3 linked regions of the Homo sapiens genome follow. The protein of the gene in region 1 interacts with the protein of each later gene in a pairwise test. Each region holds a gene or a part of one and is shown in the gene's direction. Other genes may lie near its edges.

Region 1 (3,739 bases):
AAAGGAATATCACTTTAACCTTTCACTGAAATACCAGTGTTTATTTTTCAGTATAGCAAAGATCAAAAAGTTATTAACATACTGCATTAATGAGGGTGTGAGTAACTAGGGACTCTCATACGTTGCTGAAGAGACTATAAATTGGGTCAAATCTTGTGTAGAATAATATAACACTATCAGGCAAAATTACATGTGCACATGTCTGTTGACCCAGCAAATCAACTTCTAGAAATATAGCCTATAGGTAAATTACATATTTTTATGTGTGTGTGTGTATGTGTCATATATATATATGTATTCATGTGTGCATGTATGAAATTCTCTACAAGGATTCCCAGAAACCTGATAACATGCTTTGCCTGGAGTAAGGGTGAGGAGTGGGGATGAGTGATGGTGGAAGTGATACTTTTCACCATACATCCTTTTTATATCTTGAGAATTTTGAACCTCATGAATCTTAAAGTTATTCAAAAATACAAATTTATGAATGTAAATGAAGGGAAAAGTTAGGTACAAGCACTTTGGAGGAATCATTTTTGAACCTCACAGTTTTCCAATCTTCATTTTATAGAGAAAGAGGCATTATTGGAGACTTGACAGCAAATGTCTAACATTATTTCAGAATGAATCTGGATCAAAGTATTATAAGGTAAGGATTTTACACTTTAAAAAATATAAGCATTAAGATAGTGTATGTTTTTTTCAGATAATATTCATTAACTGTTATATTTGAATATATATGACTCTAGCTAGTATGGTTTATAGAAGTCACTGTTAGGTTCCTTGTTGAAGCAACTATTTCCCATACCAAATTTCACTCCCCCACAGCAGCTCTCCTTCCAGACTGTTTGTTGTTGTCGTGTATTTATTTATTTCTGGCTTGCCTGTCAGGTTGCTGCTGCTTTCCTTCTGGATACTCTGATTTAGATTAGACTGCTTAGAAAGTCCCATCATCATTGACTGTCCAGAAGAGGTCAGTGAGGTATTTAGTATTTCTCCCACCTTCCACCTTACCTTGGGTGCCAATTCCCAATTGCTTGTTTGGCTCTTAATCTCCTTTTTACAGTCTTCCTTGCTTGGCTTATTCCACGTTTTGCCACATCACAAACTGATAGCAAGCAAGATTATAACCAAGCAGTTAGGTCAGTAAGAGAGAATGGGAACTAATGGCTTGCTTTGAGCAGGTGTTTTTTTGTTTGTTTGTTTTTAGTAAGTTTTTTTTTTTGCCTTAGGAAGTGGACTAAAAATATAATGATTGCTACAGGTTACTCCAGTGGACAGAACCAGAATGGGAGTGGCTTAAACAACTGACCAAGATTCTGCTTTTTCTGCCATTATTTCTGCTTCTTACTTGCTTTGGGGCTATATCTTGTAGACTACAGTCACTAGATAAGTAGTTGTGAAGCTGAATTAATGACAGTTGGAAGTTACAAGTGTTGGATATAGTGGCAGATTACTCTCCTATATCTTCTTCCTTGCATCCTAATGATCTGCTACTGGCTTAGTTATCATAGTCCATGCTCTGCGTCTGGCATTGCTGGACATTGCAGCTCATTCAAGACAGGCCATGTCATAAGACTCAACTGTGTATTAAATGTTGCATACTTGTGTCCGTCTTAATGGCATTCATTGAAATGCATATCTCTGGTTCTTTAGTGTATTTAAAAATAAAAACAAAGATCTATTCTTATTTTTCAATGCTTAATTTTTTACTTCAGGAAATTCCACTTTCAGAAATTCTCCGCATATCTTCACCACGAGATTTCACAAACATTTCACAAGGCAGCAATCCACACTGTTTTGAAATCATTACTGATACTATGGTATACTTCGTTGGTGAGAACAATGGGGACAGCTCTCATAATCCTGTTCTTGCTGCCACTGGAGTTGGACTTGATGTAGCACAGAGCTGGGAAAAAGCAATTCGCCAAGCCCTCATGCCTGTTACTCCTCAAGCAAGTGTTTGCACTTCTCCAGGGCAAGGGAAAGATCACAGTAAGCAATAAACTTCTTGATGGCTTTTTCTCCTCTTTAATTCTTAAGCATTTTGTGGGTATGGTTGTGTTCCTTTGTTCCTTTTAATGTTCATCCTAAGCTTAGTCTTTAGTAACCAATACTTTAGTAACCAATACAATTAGTTAACTCTTTTATAAAATTATATTGGTTATAGTATATATACGTACATACAATGCCCAGTGCTAGGCTCCAGAGTCAGTTTTCCTACATGAAAATCCTGGCTATACCATCTGTTATATGATCAGGCAAGTACTTTACCTCACTGTAGTAGTAAGTACTTCATAAGGTTGTCAGTATTAAATGAAAGAGAACCTGTAAGATACAGAACAGTGCTTGGCATCCGTAAAGTCTCATTGGATTATGCCTGCTACTGGTATTAATATTTTGCTTTATAGTGGGATATAAACAGGCAATAAAGTATTATGGTTCACATCACACTCATGAAATCTGTGAAGTCAGAAATGCTGTATTAAAACATACAGAAATATTTAAAAATCACTGAAACATGTTTTGCACCAACAAAACTTATATAATTAAGCCTAAATTGGATAAAGTTTCAAAAGTAAACAGTTAACAATCGAAAGGTCACTATAATGTCACTTCTCCCCCATTAACATTATGTTGCTTATGGGGACACATAAGTCATTCATTTGAGAAATATACTCAAATTGAAATAAGTATCAACAACTTTCCAAAGGTAGTTTATTTTAGTTTAGCTGTATTATTTTGTACAACTATTATGCTAGGCCCTGAGCTAAAATACAAAATAAATACAGAAATCATAAAAGCTCTTTAGGGAGAGATGGGATATATAAAGGTATTAGATGGTAGCATAAAGCAGTACAGTGCAAAAGTGAGGAATACATTACTTAAAAAACTCAGATACAGACAGAAGAGTAAACAAGACTTCATAGAAGAACCTGATTTGAACCTCAGGTAGAAATACAGTAGGCAGATCTCAGTGGGAGGGGTGGAGGGGTAACATTATTTAGTTGAGACAAGTGTGATGAGGATCATGACAACTGTGTACATGTTTGGTGTTCAGTACTGATTTGGGGTTGGAATGGGTGTAAGTAGATGGATGTTTCACAGTGGTTCTTAAGTTTTCGAGGTTTTTAGACAGAACTCTATGTCATTCTAATTAAAACTAGGACTGTTTCCTCAGAAAACAATACAGGCACTTACACACTCTTTAAAAGATAAATGAGGTGATTTATTTCAGGCAATAAATGTATTAAAGTACCAAAAAACAACATTATAAAATTATAAAAATGCAAGCAATTTAGAAGTGTATAAAAACTCTTTGTCCCCCAACCCCACCTCTTCCACTCACCAAAAGTAATCACAGATTTTTGTTTTTAATTTAAGCACTGCTACCCTGCAATTCCCTTGACTCCACTTCCCCCCCTCCCCCCACCAAGAGACAGGGTCTCGCTATGTCGCCCAGGTGAGAGTGCAGTGCGCAAATCATAACTTGCTGCAACCTCAAACTCCAGGGCTCAGATCCTCCTGTCTCAGCCTCCTGAGTAGCTAGGACTACCGGTGCACACCACTATGCCTGGCTAATTTTAAAATTTTTTTAGAGATAGGGTATCCTGTAGCCCAGGTGGTCTCAAACTCCTGGGCTCAAGTGATCCTCCTGCCTCAGCGTCCTAATGCACTGGGATTACAGTAAAACTTCCCTTTTTAACTCAGTAATAATCATAACTAGCTTTCTGACTTT
Region 2 (3,500 bases), on another chromosome or scaffold:
TTTATTTATTTTGAGACAGGGTCTTACTGTGTCACCCAGGTTGGAGTGTAGTGGTGTGATCATGGCTCACTGCAGCCTCAACCTCCTATGCTCAAGCAATCCTCCCGTCTCAGCCTCCCAAGTAGCTGGGACTACATGCACAAGCCACCACATCTGGTTGATTTTTAAATTTTATGTAGAGACAGGGTGTATTAGTCCATTTTCACACTGTTATAAAGAAATACCTGAGACTGAGTAATTTATAAAGAAAGAGGTTTAATTGACTCACAGTTATACATGGCTGGGGAAGCCTCAGGAAACTTACAATCATGGCAGAAGGCAAAGGGGAAGTAAGAACCTTCTTCACAAGGCAGCAGGAGAGAGAGAAGGGAAGGAGGAACTCCCAAACACTTGTAAAACCATTGGATTTCGTGAGCATTCACTAGCATGAGAACCGCATGGGGGAAACTCCCCATGATCCAGTTACCTCCCTCACTCAACACATGGGAGGGATTACAGGTTCCCTCCCTCCACAGGTGGTGATTACAAATCGAGATGAGATTTGGGTGGGGACACAGAGCCATAGCATATCACAGGGTCTCCCTTTGTTGCCCAGGCTATTGTCAAACTCCTGGGCTCAAGAGATCCTCCCATCTCAGCCTCCCAAAATGCTGGGATTATAGGCAAGAGCCACTTTGCCAGGCCAGGAGCTTAAAATTTTAAACTGTTAAAATGAGTTTCTTTAATGCATTGAGTTTCCTTTATTGAATTTCTTTTTGAACGTTGGCTAATGAGCCGAGGAATCATGCAAAGCTTTAAATTACAGATTCAGTGGGTGTTACAGCTAAAGCCTGGGAAGAAAAATAAAATGAGTGAAATACGTCCATTTTAGATTTGTTCAGTTCAACAAACATGTATGAGAAACAACAAAAAGCATGTATTAAAGAGCCTGCTATGGCTGCAGCGCTGTGTCATGGAGAATCTAAATATTAGCATCCCTTCTTGCAGACAGAGTTGAGTAGTTTTAGATGAGATTCCTTAATTGGGAGGGATTTTGGACCACAGAATAATCTCTAGGGTGCTTTTCAACTCTCAGATTATATAATTATGTTGGAAGGGAAGTAATTTGTTAGTTCCAGGAGAACTTTTATGTTCTCAGTAGATGTGCCAGAAGCATTAGCTGCCACACATTGTGGGAATGTAAAATTCCAACCGAATAAGGCATTCAACCCAATTAAAAAAAATTTTAATGGGCACTAATGGCCTTAATCAAGATAGAATAGTTTACAGAATATTATTAGCATTAATACAGTAGTAATATAAGTATAAATAGGACCTTGATTTATAAATTTAAGCAATGTCAAGAAGCATACATGGAATGTGAAGAAAAAGAGATGAAAATACAGCCATGTGTCGCTTAACGTTGGGGATACGTACTGAGAAATGCATCATTAGGTGATTTTGTTGTTGTGTAAACATCATAGAATGTACTTACACATACCTGGATGGTATAGCCTACTGCACATGTAGGCTATATGGTATAGCCTATTGCTCCTAAGCTGCAAAACTGTACAGCATGTGACTGTACTGAATAAATAGGCAATTGTAATGCAGTAGTATTTGTGTATCTAAACATATCTAAACAAGCAAAGTACAGGAAAAATACGGTACAAAAAATAAAAAATGGTTCACCTGACCAGGACACTTATTATGACTGGAAGTTGCTCTGGGTGCATCAGTGAGTGAGCGGTGAGTAAATGCGAAGGCCTAGGGCATTACTGTACACTACAGAAACACTGTACAGCTTAGGTTGCACTAAATCAAAAAATTATTTTTCTTCGATAATAAATTAACCTTAGCTTACTGTAATTTTTTTACTTTATAAACTTTTACATTTTTTAACATTCTGACTCGTTTGTAATACTTAGCTTAAAACACATTGTACAGCTATATAACAATATTTTTCTCTTTCTTTCCTGTCATACTAAAATCACTTTTTTTTTTTTTTTTTTTTTTTAAAAAGAGATGAGATCTTGCTCTGTTCCCCAGGCTGGTCTTGAATTCCTGGGCTCAAGTGATCCTTCCACCTCAGCCTCCCAAGCAGCTAGGACAACTGGTGTATGCCGCCATGCCTGGCTAATGTTTTCTTCATTATATCTTTATTCTAGAAACTTTATTTAAAAATATTATTTAGTATTTGTTTGTTTTACTTTTTGTTCCTCTGGCTACCCATATTTTACTTTTTAAGCTTTTTCTTTGGTTGAAAACAAAGACACAAACACACATTAACCTAGGCCTACACAGGGTCAGGATCATCAGTATCACTGTCTTCCACCTCCACATCTTATCCCACTGGGAGGTCTTCAGGAGAGTAACAGGCGTGGAGCTATCATCTCCTATGATAACAATCCCTTCTTCTGAGACTGTTTTACAATTAACTTTTTAAAAAAATAGAATACACTCTACAGTTAAACAATAAAAAGTACAGTATAGTAAATACAGAAACCAGTAATAGTCATTTACTATCAAGTATTATGTACTGCACATAATTGTATGTGCTACATTTTGTTGTTGTTGTTTTGAGACAGGGTCTTACTCTGTTGCCCAGGCTGGAGTATAATGGTGTGATCACAGCTCACTGCAGCCTTGACCTTCTGGGCTTAAGCGATCCTCCCACCTCAACAAGTATCTGGGGCTCCAGGCACATGCCACCATGCCTGGCTAATTTTTGTATTTTTTTGTAGAGATAGGGTTTCGGCATGTTGCCCAGGCTGGTCTTGAACTCCTGGACTAAGGCAATCTGCATCCTCAGCCTCCCTAAGTGCTGGGATTACAGGCATGAGCCACCGTGCTCAGCTGTGCTAGACTTTTATATGACCGGCAGCACAGTAGGTTTGATTGTGTACTCACCATAAACACATGAGTAATGCATTGTGCTGTGACACCACAGCTATGATGGGATAGGAATTTCTCAACTCCATTATAATCTCTTGGGACTACTCTTGTATATGTGGTCTGTAGTTGACTGAAATGTTATATAGTCCATGACTATATTAGAAGGTAATAGATCATGGGTAGCCAAACCTATCATTCTAGGTTTTTTTTTTCCCCAGCCCCAGAAAACTTTATTTATAGACCAGCAATGAGAGGCTGAAATTCTGATCCAGGTTAGGATGTGTCAACATAGCAAATTTATTGAACACTCATTGAGTGCCAAGTTCTGTGATACTGTTATGAAGGAGACAGACATGCAGGGAGCTTAGAGTCTAATGGGAGAGATGGAAGAACAAACAGACCAAACAGCATGATGAAAATGATTACCTTTTCTTTTTCTGGCTTCTCTTCTTGTTGACAAACAAAAATTAACAGGAAAAAACTTCCCACTTAAAAAGTTGTACTGATTGTTATTGGTATGTTGATAACATCTTTAAATTGGGTATTTGTGGTAACTAACATTTATTACAGTAGTTTGAACCTGATATACAGTTTCTTAACCAACCACCACTTTAACCAGCTTGGTA
Region 3 (2,878 bases), on another chromosome or scaffold:
TGTGAGGCTGAATAATACCTGTGAATTATCTTAAATTTATTGGAGAAGACTGTCATATTAAATAGGCCTAAAGATGAGATTTTACAAAATATTACATGAATTAAAAATATCTAGAAAGTGCTTTATGCTCCTAAGAAATATGATTTAAACATTATTATTGGTTGATAGTATAATCAAAACCAAAAAGCAATGAAACGTGCTTTTATTTCTGCACTGAAGATAAATTTGGGACTTTTTTTTTCTTGAGACAGAGTTTTGCTCTTGTTGCCCATGCTGGCAATCTAGGCCCACTGCAACCTCTGTCTCCTGGGTTCAAATGATTCTCCTGCCTCAGCCTCCCGAGTAGCTGGGATTACAGGCGGGCACCACCATGCCTGGCTAATTTTTGTATTTTTAGTAGAGACAGGGTTTCACTACATTGGTCAGGCTGGTCTCAAACTCGTGACCTCAGGTGATCTGCCCCCCTCGGCCTCCCAAAGTGCTGGGATTACAGGTGTGAACCACTGCACCCGGCCAATTTGGGGACATTTAAAAAGTGAATTGTGACTATTGTAGGATTAGATTTAGGACTATTCCATTGAAGTTTTGTTATCCTGCAGGGTAGTGGAGCTGGCTCCATACCATCACAGACACTATTTGATTTGCTTTTGTTTCTTAAAGGCTGCTCTTGAGCATGAAGAAGCCAAGATCCTCCGAATCCAGCTTGAATTGACACAAGTGAAATCAGAAATTGATAGAAAGATCGCCGAGAAGGATGAAGAGATCGAGCAGCTGAAGAGGAACTACCAGAGAACAGTGGAAACCATGCAGAGCGCCCTGGACGCCGAGGTGCGGAGCAGGAATGAAGCCATCCGGCTCAAGAAGAAGATGGAGGGGGACCTGAATGAAATCGAGATCCAGCTGAGCCACGCCAACCGCCAGGCGGCGGAGACCCTCAAACACCTCAGGAGTGTCCAGGGACAGCTGAAGGTTTGAGAGAACCCATCGGGGAAAAACCTCTCTCCTCCTCACATACTCAGAAATGTAGGCTGGGCACAGTGGTGCACGCCTGTAGTCCCAGCGCTCTGGGAGACTGAGGCAAGAGGCTCACTTGAGCCCAGGAGTTTGATACCAGCCTGGGCAATATAGCAAAACCTTATCTCTACAAAAAAAATAAAAATTAGCTAGGCATGGTGGCACAAGCCTGTGGTCTCAGCTACTTGGGAGGCTGAGATGGGAGGATTGCTTTCCAGGAGGCAGAGGTTACAGTGAGCTGAGATCACGCAACTGCACACCAGCTTGGGTGACAGAACAAGACCCTGTCTCAAAACAAACAAAACAAAACAAAACAAAAACAAACAAACAAACAAACAAAACTCAGAGATGCAGATGAGGCTCGTGGTCCTAACGCCTCAACTTCAAATAGAATGTTCGTTTTTCTCTGGCTAGGATACGCAGCTCCACCTGGATGATGCCCTCCGGGGCCAGGAGGACCTGAAGGAGCAGCTGGCGATTGTGGAGCGCAGAGCCAACCTGCTGCAGGCCGAGGTGGAGGAGCTGCGGGCTACTCTGGAGCAGACGGAGAGGGCCCGGAAACTGGCGGAACAGGAGCTCCTGGACTCCAACGAGAGGGTGCAGCTGCTGCATACCCAGGTGAGGGGAGGGAGAGGAAGAGAGGCGAGGTTCCAGCCTCATACGCACCTGGTTAACAGCCCTCCTCTTGCCCTAGAACACCAGCCTCATCCACACCAAGAAGAAGCTGGAGACAGACCTCATGCAGCTCCAGAGTGAGGTAGAAGATGCCAGCAGGGATGCAAGGAACGCTGAGGAGAAGGCCAAGAAGGCCATCACGGACGTAAGGCGTCTCCTTCCTGCTGCCCTCGGGCTGCCGGGATTGCATTGCATTAAAGCCCTCACATAGTTAGACAGGTGCGGTCTCCCCCAGCCACACCTGGTGCACATTCTGCTCCCCGAGGGCTCCCATCTCCGCTCAAACTCCCCTGTTCCCTCCTGCACTTTAGAAGAAGGGCATAAGAAAAAAAGGCAGGAAGGGATTATATCCTAGTAGTTCTGCCTGTGGAGAGGTGTGCATGTCTTTCCTTCAACATCTGACTTATTCCAAATATGAAAACAAGAACCTGAGGTGTTAATATCCCACACATTTTTCCCTTCCTGGGTCTCCGAGGCTTTCTCCCGGCGGCCCACCGCGCTAATGGCGCCACCTGCTGCCTGGCGGGAGAACTTTACCTCGAAGCGATTTTGTTGTTCCTGTACAGCCTTAATTCTCCAGAGGCCTTCCCTTAATCTCACTATCCCCAAATCTATGAGGCTGAGTATCAAGTCAGACTACTCTAAGTCTCAAGCTCCTTTGAAAATATATATTGGTGGTAATGAAAAAAGAATTTCCCTGGGGCAGGGGAGAGTTTCAAAGGAGGCCAGCTTAAGAAAGGGAAGAAACTGTTTCCCAGCCTGTCGCTAAAGTTCTCATTGCCTCATTGATTAGGTTATTTTATCTACTGGGTGTAGCTCTGGCCCTCTTCCAGGGTGGCAGAGTGTGCTTCATCACAGTCTCACCCGTTGTCCTTTTTCTTTCTTTCTTTCTTCCCCCACCCCCGAGATGGAGTTTCACTCTTATTGACCAGGCTGGAGTGCAATGGCGAGATCTCGGCTCACTGCAACCTCCTCCTCCTGGGTTCAAGCAACTCTCCTGCCTCAGCCTCCGGAGTAGCTGGGAATACGGGCATCTGCCACCACGCCCAGCTAATTTTTTGTATTTTTAGTAGAGATGGGCTTTCACCATGTTGAGCAGGCTGGTCTTGAACTCCTGACCTCAGGTGATCCACCCGCCTTGGCCTCCCAAAGTGCTGGGATTACAGACGTGAGCCACCGCGCCTGGCCT

Evidence for each region.
Region 2: the proteins of PRKD3 (region 1) and NUDT3 interact in a two-hybrid assay, tested with the Homo sapiens proteins (one large-scale study listed by BioGRID and IntAct).
Region 3: the proteins of PRKD3 (region 1) and MYH3 interact in a two-hybrid assay, tested with the Homo sapiens proteins (one large-scale study listed by BioGRID and IntAct).

Annotation. Positions count from the first base shown.
Region 1 is NC_000002.12:37,272,677-37,276,415, reverse strand, and holds part of PRKD3 (serine/threonine-protein kinase D3), read left to right. Parts: intron 1-571; coding exon 572-649; intron 650-1,718; coding exon 1,719-1,995; intron 1,996-3,739. UniProt on the Homo sapiens protein: Converts transient diacylglycerol (DAG) signals into prolonged physiological effects, downstream of PKC. Involved in resistance to oxidative stress.
Region 2 is NC_000006.12:34,386,170-34,389,669, reverse strand, and holds part of NUDT3 (diphosphoinositol polyphosphate phosphohydrolase 1), read left to right. Parts: intron 1-3,500. UniProt on the Homo sapiens protein: Cleaves a beta-phosphate from the diphosphate groups in PP-InsP5 (diphosphoinositol pentakisphosphate) and [PP]2-InsP4 (bisdiphosphoinositol tetrakisphosphate), suggesting that it may play a role in signal transduction.
Region 3 is NC_000017.11:10,630,567-10,633,444, reverse strand, and holds part of MYH3 (myosin-3), read left to right. Parts: exon of another isoform or gene 1-29; intron 30-660; coding exon 661-969; intron 970-1,428; coding exon 1,429-1,632; intron 1,633-1,680; exon of another isoform or gene 1,681-1,708; coding exon 1,709-1,834; exon of another isoform or gene 1,835-1,864; intron 1,865-2,776; exon of another isoform or gene 2,777-2,813; intron 2,814-2,878. UniProt on the Homo sapiens protein: Muscle contraction.